Homo sapiens: one gene and its partner. The protein of the gene in region 1 purifies or fractionates together with the protein of each later gene. This does not show direct contact. Each region holds a gene or a part of one and is shown in the gene's direction. Other genes may lie near its edges.

What was found. The genes of interacting proteins can lie anywhere in the genome.
Region 2: the proteins of ABAT (region 1) and CMBL fractionate together in Homo sapiens (co-fractionation; one large-scale study listed by BioGRID). This does not show direct contact.

Annotation. Positions count from the first base shown.
Region 1 is NC_000016.10:8,677,617-8,681,116, forward strand, and holds part of ABAT (4-aminobutyrate aminotransferase, mitochondrial isoform 1 precursor), read left to right. Parts: intron 1-3,500. UniProt on the Homo sapiens protein: Catalyzes the conversion of gamma-aminobutyrate and L-beta-aminoisobutyrate to succinate semialdehyde and methylmalonate semialdehyde, respectively. Can also convert delta-aminovalerate and beta-alanine.
Region 2 is NC_000005.10:10,305,103-10,309,400, reverse strand, and holds the start of CMBL (carboxymethylenebutenolidase homolog), read left to right. Parts: upstream 1-1,498; 5' UTR 1,499-1,776; exon of another isoform or gene 1,777-1,886; intron 1,887-4,298. UniProt on the Homo sapiens protein: Cysteine hydrolase. Can convert the prodrug olmesartan medoxomil into its pharmacologically active metabolite olmerstatan, an angiotensin receptor blocker, in liver and intestine. May also activate beta-lactam antibiotics faropenem medoxomil and lenampicillin.

The DNA of each region.
Region 1 (3,500 bases):
TTCAGCAGCGCCTCTGGTCTCTACCCACTAGATGCCAGTGACACTCCCTACCCCATGAGTCATGTCCATCAGAAATGTCTGCAGACATTGCCAGATGTGCCCTGGGGAGCAAAATCATCCTTTTCCTTCGCTATTGAGAACTGCTGGTCTAATACATGGCCTTAAACATAGTTGATACTTAATATAAAACAGCTTCCTAGCTGAGGCGGGTGGATGGCTTGAGCCCAGGAGTTTGAGACCAGCGTGGGCAACATGGCAAAACCCCATCTCTGTAAAATACAGGAAAAAAAAAATCAGCTGGTCATGGTGGCATGCGCCTGTAGTCCTAGCAACCTGGGAGGCTGAGGTGGGGGGATTGCTTGAGCCCGGGGAGGTCGAAGCTGCAGTGAGCCATGATCACACCACTGCATTCCAGCCTGGGTGACAGAGTGAGACACTGTCTCCAAAAAAAAACAAAATAAAAACCAAAAACAGCTTCTTTCTTGCACAAGCTCCTCGTTTTGGTTTCTGTGTAATGAGGAGAAGGAGATGTGTCTAGCTGTGGAGCCTTCCAATATTAATAACAATTTTTAATTTCTCACATTTACACAAGACTTTCTTGTCTGGTTTTTGTTTTTCTCTTTAGTAGAGACAGAGTCGGGTGGTCTCTAACTCCTAGGCTTAAGCGATCCTCCCGCCTTGGCTTCCCAAAGCACTGGGGTTACAAGTGTGAGTTACAACCAAAGCGCTGGGGTTACAAGTGTGAGTTACAGGAATAAGCCACAGCACCCAACCTACACAGGACCTTATCATCTCCAAAGCACTGTTGTGTCTATGACACTGTTTCTCACTCTACAGATAAGCAAACTAAGCCTCACAAAGGTTAAAAGACTTGTCTAAGACCATCACCCGCTTCTCCACCAGGCATCAGAGAAACATCCATGCCAGAAATTGTTTGAGAAACAACTGAGTTCTGGGCCTTCTTCAGATTAGTTATCAGGGTCTTTCGAAACTTCAATGGCATGCTCTTTGGTCCAGCAATCCCACTTTGAAAAATCTCACACAGAAATGCTCACACTTGCACTGACATAACATAAAAATGTCCATGGCAGAGCTTGCAACACTGGTATGGGAAGGGATTACAGTATATGCATTCATGTGGGAGAATGAGTAGATTTTAGATGAATGAGGTGGATCCACATTCCTGACCTTGAAAGGTTCCTGAGTCATATTATTTAGTGAAAAAGATAAAGTCACAGAATCAACATAGCCAGTATGATCCTATTTTTTTTTAAATGTAAATATGCATGAACATGGATAGTTAGGGAAGTGGGGAATTAAAAGGACCTAGATAGTATGTATGTATGAGAACATATTCCTGGGGGAAGAAGAAGAAAATAAATCTCCGCCAGCTTCCCATGCATTAAAAATGAGCAAAGTGGGCTGGCCACCTTGTCTCACGTCTGCGATCCCAGCACTTTGGGAGGCTGAGGCGGCAGAATCACTTGAGCCCAGGAGTTTGAGGCTGCAGTGAGTTGTGAGTGAGCCACTGCACTCCAACCTGGGCAACAAAGGGACACTGTAAATAATTAATCATAAGATAAAAATTAAAATGAATAGAGCACAACCCACAGAGGTTGAGAGACTTGCTAACACCAGAAGTTGCCAGTGGTGAAATTCAGCTTTGAGTTTGCTGATAGTTACGGGGCCAAGAGACAGGAATCTGAGGCTCATCTCAGCAGGCCAAGCCTCCTTCCTTACTGTGGGGAAATTCCTTCTCTGAGCACCTAGAGGGATCCTGGTGTCAGACTGACCTCACCTGAATCAGGCTTCCACCCACGTGATGACCTCAGGCCAGCCACTTTAACTCTCAGTGCCTCATTTCTCTAACTTTAAAATAGCTAAAAGGCAAAGGAAAAAACATGAAAGCCAAAAAAAAAAAAAAAGGTAGAAGGAGGAGGCAATAGTAGAACCTCTCTCATTGGGCCGCTGTGAGGATTACATAAAACCATGTGTTCCGACCCCCAGTACTTAGTAGGTGCTTAATTAACACGAGCCCTGGTCTCTCCTGCCTTTTTCTCTGCTTGCCTGCTCCTTGCCAGGATGCAGAAGACAAAAGCCTCAGAAAGGACAGTGGGGGCTCCTGAGGCCCCAAGAATGCTTAGCAGGCTGAATCAGTTGTCCTCACTTCTTCACTTTGCCCTCTGATCCACCATGACCACTCTGCTGCAGGAGCTTTTAACAGAAAGCCTGGGAGAGCATTCTGAGGGGGTCTGTGCTATAGCTCTTCCTCCCTGGGGTCTAACCATCCTTGCTTTCTCTAGACACTCCACACATTAAACTGTCTTGCCCGTTGCAGGGATGGGATGGCATCATGTGGCCTCTAATTACACATCCCTTCAATAATAAGATTGACTCTCCAAGGGCAAGTTTTCCTCCTCCTTCAAAAGCTATCTCACATTGCGTCTTTTACAGGTAGTCTTCCCCGACCCTCCCCCACCTCCAGCCAGGAAAACCATTTCTCCTCCTCCCAACTCCTGTCATCCACATCCTAGACTTCCTGGGTCTGCCACATCCTATTCTTCCTGGGTCCATCACATCCTAGATTTCTTGGGTCCATCACTGTTTGCTGGATTTCTTCCCAATCCATAATTGCCTGGAAGCAGCCATCACATCCATCACATTTATTCTTGTGTCTTAAATGCATAGCACACTTCCCTATGCACACAGTAGATATTCAAGGAGCATTGACTGAATGCAGAAAAGTATTTTTTAAATTGGGGTAAAATACACATAACATGAAATTGACCATTTTCATCATTTTATTTTTATGTATTTTTTTGGGGGGCAGGGGGAATCTTGCTCTGTCACCCAGGCTGGAGTGCAGTGGTGTGATCTCGGCTTACTGCAACCTCTGCCTCCTGGGTTCAGGCAATTCTGACTCAGCCTCCCAAGTAGCTGGGATTACATGTGTGGGCCACAACCACGCCCGGCTAATTTTTTTGTATTTTTAGTAGAGACGGGGTTTCACCATGTTGGCCAGGCTGGTCTTGAACTACTGACCTCAAGTGATCCGCCTGCCTCGGCTTCCCAAAGTGCTGGGATTACTGGCATGAGCCACTGCGCCCGACCTCCATTTTTTGATTATTATCATTGGGGTCACTGTGGCAGGTGTGAAGCAATACCACATTGTGGTTTTGATTTGCATTTCCCTAATGACTGATGGCATTGAGCATCTTATGTGTTTGTTGCTTATTTGTATATTATCTTCAGAGAAATGTCTACTCAAGTTCTTTGCCCATTTTTGAATTGAGTTGTCTTTTTGTCTTTTTGTTCTTGAGCTGTAAGAGTTCTTCTTTTCTCTTTTTCTTTTTCTTTTTATTTATCTATTTTTTTTTTTGAGACAGAGTCTCACCCTGTCTGTCACCCAAGCTGGAGTGCAGTGGCATGATCATAGCTTACTGCAGCCTTGACTTCCCAAGCTCAAACAATCCTTCTGCCTCAGTCTTCCAAGTAACTGG
Region 2 (4,298 bases), on another chromosome or scaffold:
TGAGGCAGGAGAATTGCTTGAACCCGAGAGGCGGAGGTTGCAGAGAGCCGAGATGGGACCACTGCACTCCAGCCTGGGCGACACAGCGAGACTCTGTCTCAAAAACAGCAACAGCAACAACAACAACAAAAACATCATAGATAGACTTGGGTAGCTTAAACAACATTTATTTCTTATAGTTCTGGAAGTTGGAAGTCTGGGATGGGCCAGCAGGATTGGGTTCTTGGTGAGTATCCTCTTCCTGGCATACAGATGAGGAAGCAAGCTCCCTTGCCTCTTTTTGTAACGGCACAAATCCCATTCTTGGGGGCTCCACCCTCATGACCTAAGCATCTCCCAAAGGCCCCGCCTCCAAATACCACCATGGGCGGGGTGGTTAGGATTTCAACGTACAAATTTTGGAGGGGACACAAACATTCAGTCCATAACAACACCTTTGCAGTGGGGATGGCAGGAAGTGCGGCCACCACGGTGCAATGGCTTTTTAATGTGCCCATTTGTCCAGGCTGAGCTATATTCCTAGAATTCCCTTTTCCTGTATGTTTCCAGTTTGAGTGAGCCACAGGGGTGTGCTTCTGCAGCCAAGTTGAAGCTGTTGTCATAACCTTGGGCAGATGACCAGAGAAAATACGAAGGAGGCAAGTATGAAACGTGTATTAATTTCTTTTTTAAAAAAAGGCTTAATTTGGGGCTGGGGCCGGGTGCGGCGGCTCACGCCTGTAATCTCGGCAGTTTGGGAGGCCGAAGCAGGTGGAACACTTGAGGTCAGGAGTTCGAGACCAGCCTGGCCAACACGGTAAAACTCCGTCTCTATTGAAAACACAAAAATTAGCTGGGCGTGGTGGCGCGTGCCTATAATCCCAGCTACTGGGGAAGCTGAGGCAGGAGAATCACTTGAATCCGGGAGGTGGAGGTTGCAGTGAGGTTGAGGTTGAGATCGTGCCACTGCACTCCAGCCTCGGCAACAGGGTTAGACTCCATCTCAAAAAAAAAAAAAAAAAAAAAAAAAATTGTGGCTGGGCATGGTGGCTCACACCTGTAATCCCAGCACTTTGGGAGGCTGAAGGGGAGGATCACTTGAAGCCAGGAGTTCGAGGCTCCAGTGATCTATGATTGTGTCACTGCACTCCAGCCTGGGTGACAGAATAAGACCCTATCTCTAAAATAAAATAAAATAAAATAAAATAAAATAAAATAAAATAAACAAAAAATAGCTTAATTTGTATTTACAACAGAAGTTACTTGTCTTGGAAGCCAGGCACGCACGTAAATCTCACAGAAGGCTGGCTGTCTTCCTTCTCCTGGCCTCCCTGCCTCCTCCCTCAAGGCTGCCTGATTCTCTTCTCCCTTCCTCTCTGCGGTTCCCTCCCTCCCACCCCCTCTCCCTGCACCTTTCTTTATCTTGGAGCCTCTCCCATCTCTCCCTCCCTCTTCCTCCCTACCCCACCCTCCGACCACCCCACTTCTTCCCCTCCCCTCACACTTCCCTCCCTCCCTTCTCTCGTCTCCTCCCCACTGCGCCTCCCTCCCTCCTGGCCTTCCTTCCCTTCCCCGACTTTGCAGATTTCTCTTCCCCCAGGCCTCCCTCCTCCACCTCTCCGCCCCCTCCGGGCTTGGCTCTCCCAGGAGGCTACGACTGGAGCCACTGGTCCCGCAGGATCCCCGCGTCCTCGGTCGCCGCGTCCACGTCCCTCTCGCGTCCCCGCCCGGCGCCACGCCGCCTCCTCTGGGTTCGGCCTCCGCGCGGTGCAGCGCAGTCTCAGGCCGCGGGACAAGGTACGTGCGCGTCCCCGGGGCACACAAGCCCACACAAGCCCGGGCCCCGCTCCTCTGAACTCCCGCGTGTGTTCTGACTATGGCAAAGAAGGTCTTTGCCGCGTGCACGGGTAAGGAACTTCCCATAGTCCGTTTTCAGAAGCTGACTTTCATAAAAGTGATACGTTGTCCTTGCAGAACAGCAGCCTCCACGATCCCATGCGTCCGAAGCAGCCGCTGTTTACATTTTGGTATTTTCCTGTAGGTGTTTCGCCATGCATTTTAAAGACATAGTGGAAATCACACCGTATGCAAACTTGCGTTCGTTTTGGCCATTTAGCACGGAGGAGCCTTTCCACCATGCCGTTAAATACTCCTTGTAACTCTCTTCCTGCAGTGAGACATTCTGGTTGTAGCGTTTTTACTAATATAAAACTATTAAAAAACTGAGCATATTTGCAACTAAATCAGCATCCACATTCGACAGCTTTTCTTTAGGGTGGGTATTAAGAAGAGAGGTGCTGGGTCTATGGATCTAAGAGTGGGACATCCTAAATGCTGGGTAGGTGTGCCAGGAACGACTGGACAGTTTACACCCCACAGCCATGTGGGTCGGGCAGGCCTTGGAAACACTGGGCACTGAGATTTATGTCCACTTGCTGATGGAAGATGCCACCTGTTGTTTTCAAAGCCCATTTAAAATAAAGTGGTTAGTAATGAGCCTCGCCGGTATCCGGGGAATCCTGTCCAGGCCTGGGAACCCTATCCAGGCCTAGGAACAGCCAGAGAAAAAGCAGATTCTGCAGGGGCGTCGTTGGCATGTCTAAGAGGGCCATTGTGGGCTCATCCAGGTAGCTTCCTAATTCATGCTATCTCGACCATAGACACTTGGAAAATACAAGCATGGCTGCTGAAAAATAAATATTTGGAGAAGTTTGATGTTTGTAGAATCATCTAAGGATAAGTACTGGCCCTGCCTTCCCTGCTGCAAGATTGAAAATCACTTGCCATGCAAGTTCCTACAATGTTTAAGCAGTAAAGGAGAAACCTCCTGCCTTTCCCATTAGACCCCACTTTCCTGTGTTGTCTTGGGGTCCTCTGTAACCCTGAGCCCTGGATGCACTTCCACGTGGTTTCTATTTCTAAATTTCTAAAGCTTCCAGAAATGTATTCCTCCCTTCTCTCCTCTCCTCCCCGCTGCGCCTCCCTCCCTCCTGGCCTTCCCTTCCCCTACTTTGCAGACCTCTCTTCCCCCAGACCTCCCTCCTCCTCCTCTCTGCCCCCTCCGGGCTCAGGCTCTCCCAGGAGGCTGGAGATGTATTCCTAGACTTCCCTGCTTGTTATAATCCCAACTGCACCAGTCCCTTTTGCTTGTCAAAATCTGTTTTCTCTATTTCTGTTGGAGAACTGCGTTGTGCCTGGAAGTCTGACTTGTGAGTTATTTGAATCCTTAGGGCGTGAAATCAGGAAAACCACACCCTCACCATACTTTATCACCTCTCTTACCTGTCTGACTGCCAGTGTTAGAAAGGGAATGTTTGATTACATTGTTAAAAGATAATTTTCAGCCAAAGGTGAAATCGTGACTTTTATACAGATATAAAAGTGATAAATATTTTATTTTATTCATTAAAGAGAGAAATAGGCAGATGTTGTAACTGGTTCAAAAAAGAAGTCAAGAAGTGCAAATGTATACGGAGTAAAGGAGTGCCTTGTGAAGGTACACGCAGGAGAGGAGCATACCCTTGGAATTTGCAGATCAAACACTCAACTGTAAGATTGGGCACAGTGGCTCATGCCTGTAATCCTAGCACTTTGGGAGGCCGAGGTGGATGTATCCTGAAGTCAGGAGTTTGAGACCAGCCTGGCCAACATGGTGAAACCCAGTCTCTACTAAAATACAAAAATTAGCCAGGCGTGGTGGCATGTGCCTATAATCCCAGCTACTCAGGAGGCTGTGGCAGGAATATCGTTTGAACCAGTGGGGCAGAGGTTGCAGTGAGCGGAGATTGCACCATTGCACTCCAGCCTGGGCAACAGAGTGAGACTCCGTCTCAAAAAAAACAAAAAACAAAAAACAAAAAACACTCAACAGTGATCCCCATGGGTTTTGATGTGTAATTTTCCAGAGGGACATGCTTGTGTTAGGCAGAGTGAGGCTCCTTCACCCCTACAGAGTGACTCCTGTGGCCCCTCCAGCTCTGCCTCACACAAGCAAATCTCTCTGGAAAATTACACATCAAAACCCATGGGGATCACTGTTGAGTATTTGATCTGCAAATTCCAATTCCATATGCTCCTCTCCTGTGCATACCATCACATAGAAGTCATTCACACATATGCAGCACCTTGCAGCAATGTCTATGGGGAATCATGCATTTGTGCTGGTGGTGGCCAGTGTGGGCATTGCCGACGAACATGGCCACCAGGGTGTCCTGCAGGGCACTCCACAGAGCTAGGAAAAGCGTCCTGATTTCCAGAGACGTCACCAGTGGAGACCACAGAACTGACCTGGGGATGACCAGAAGGTGGCCCCAAACACA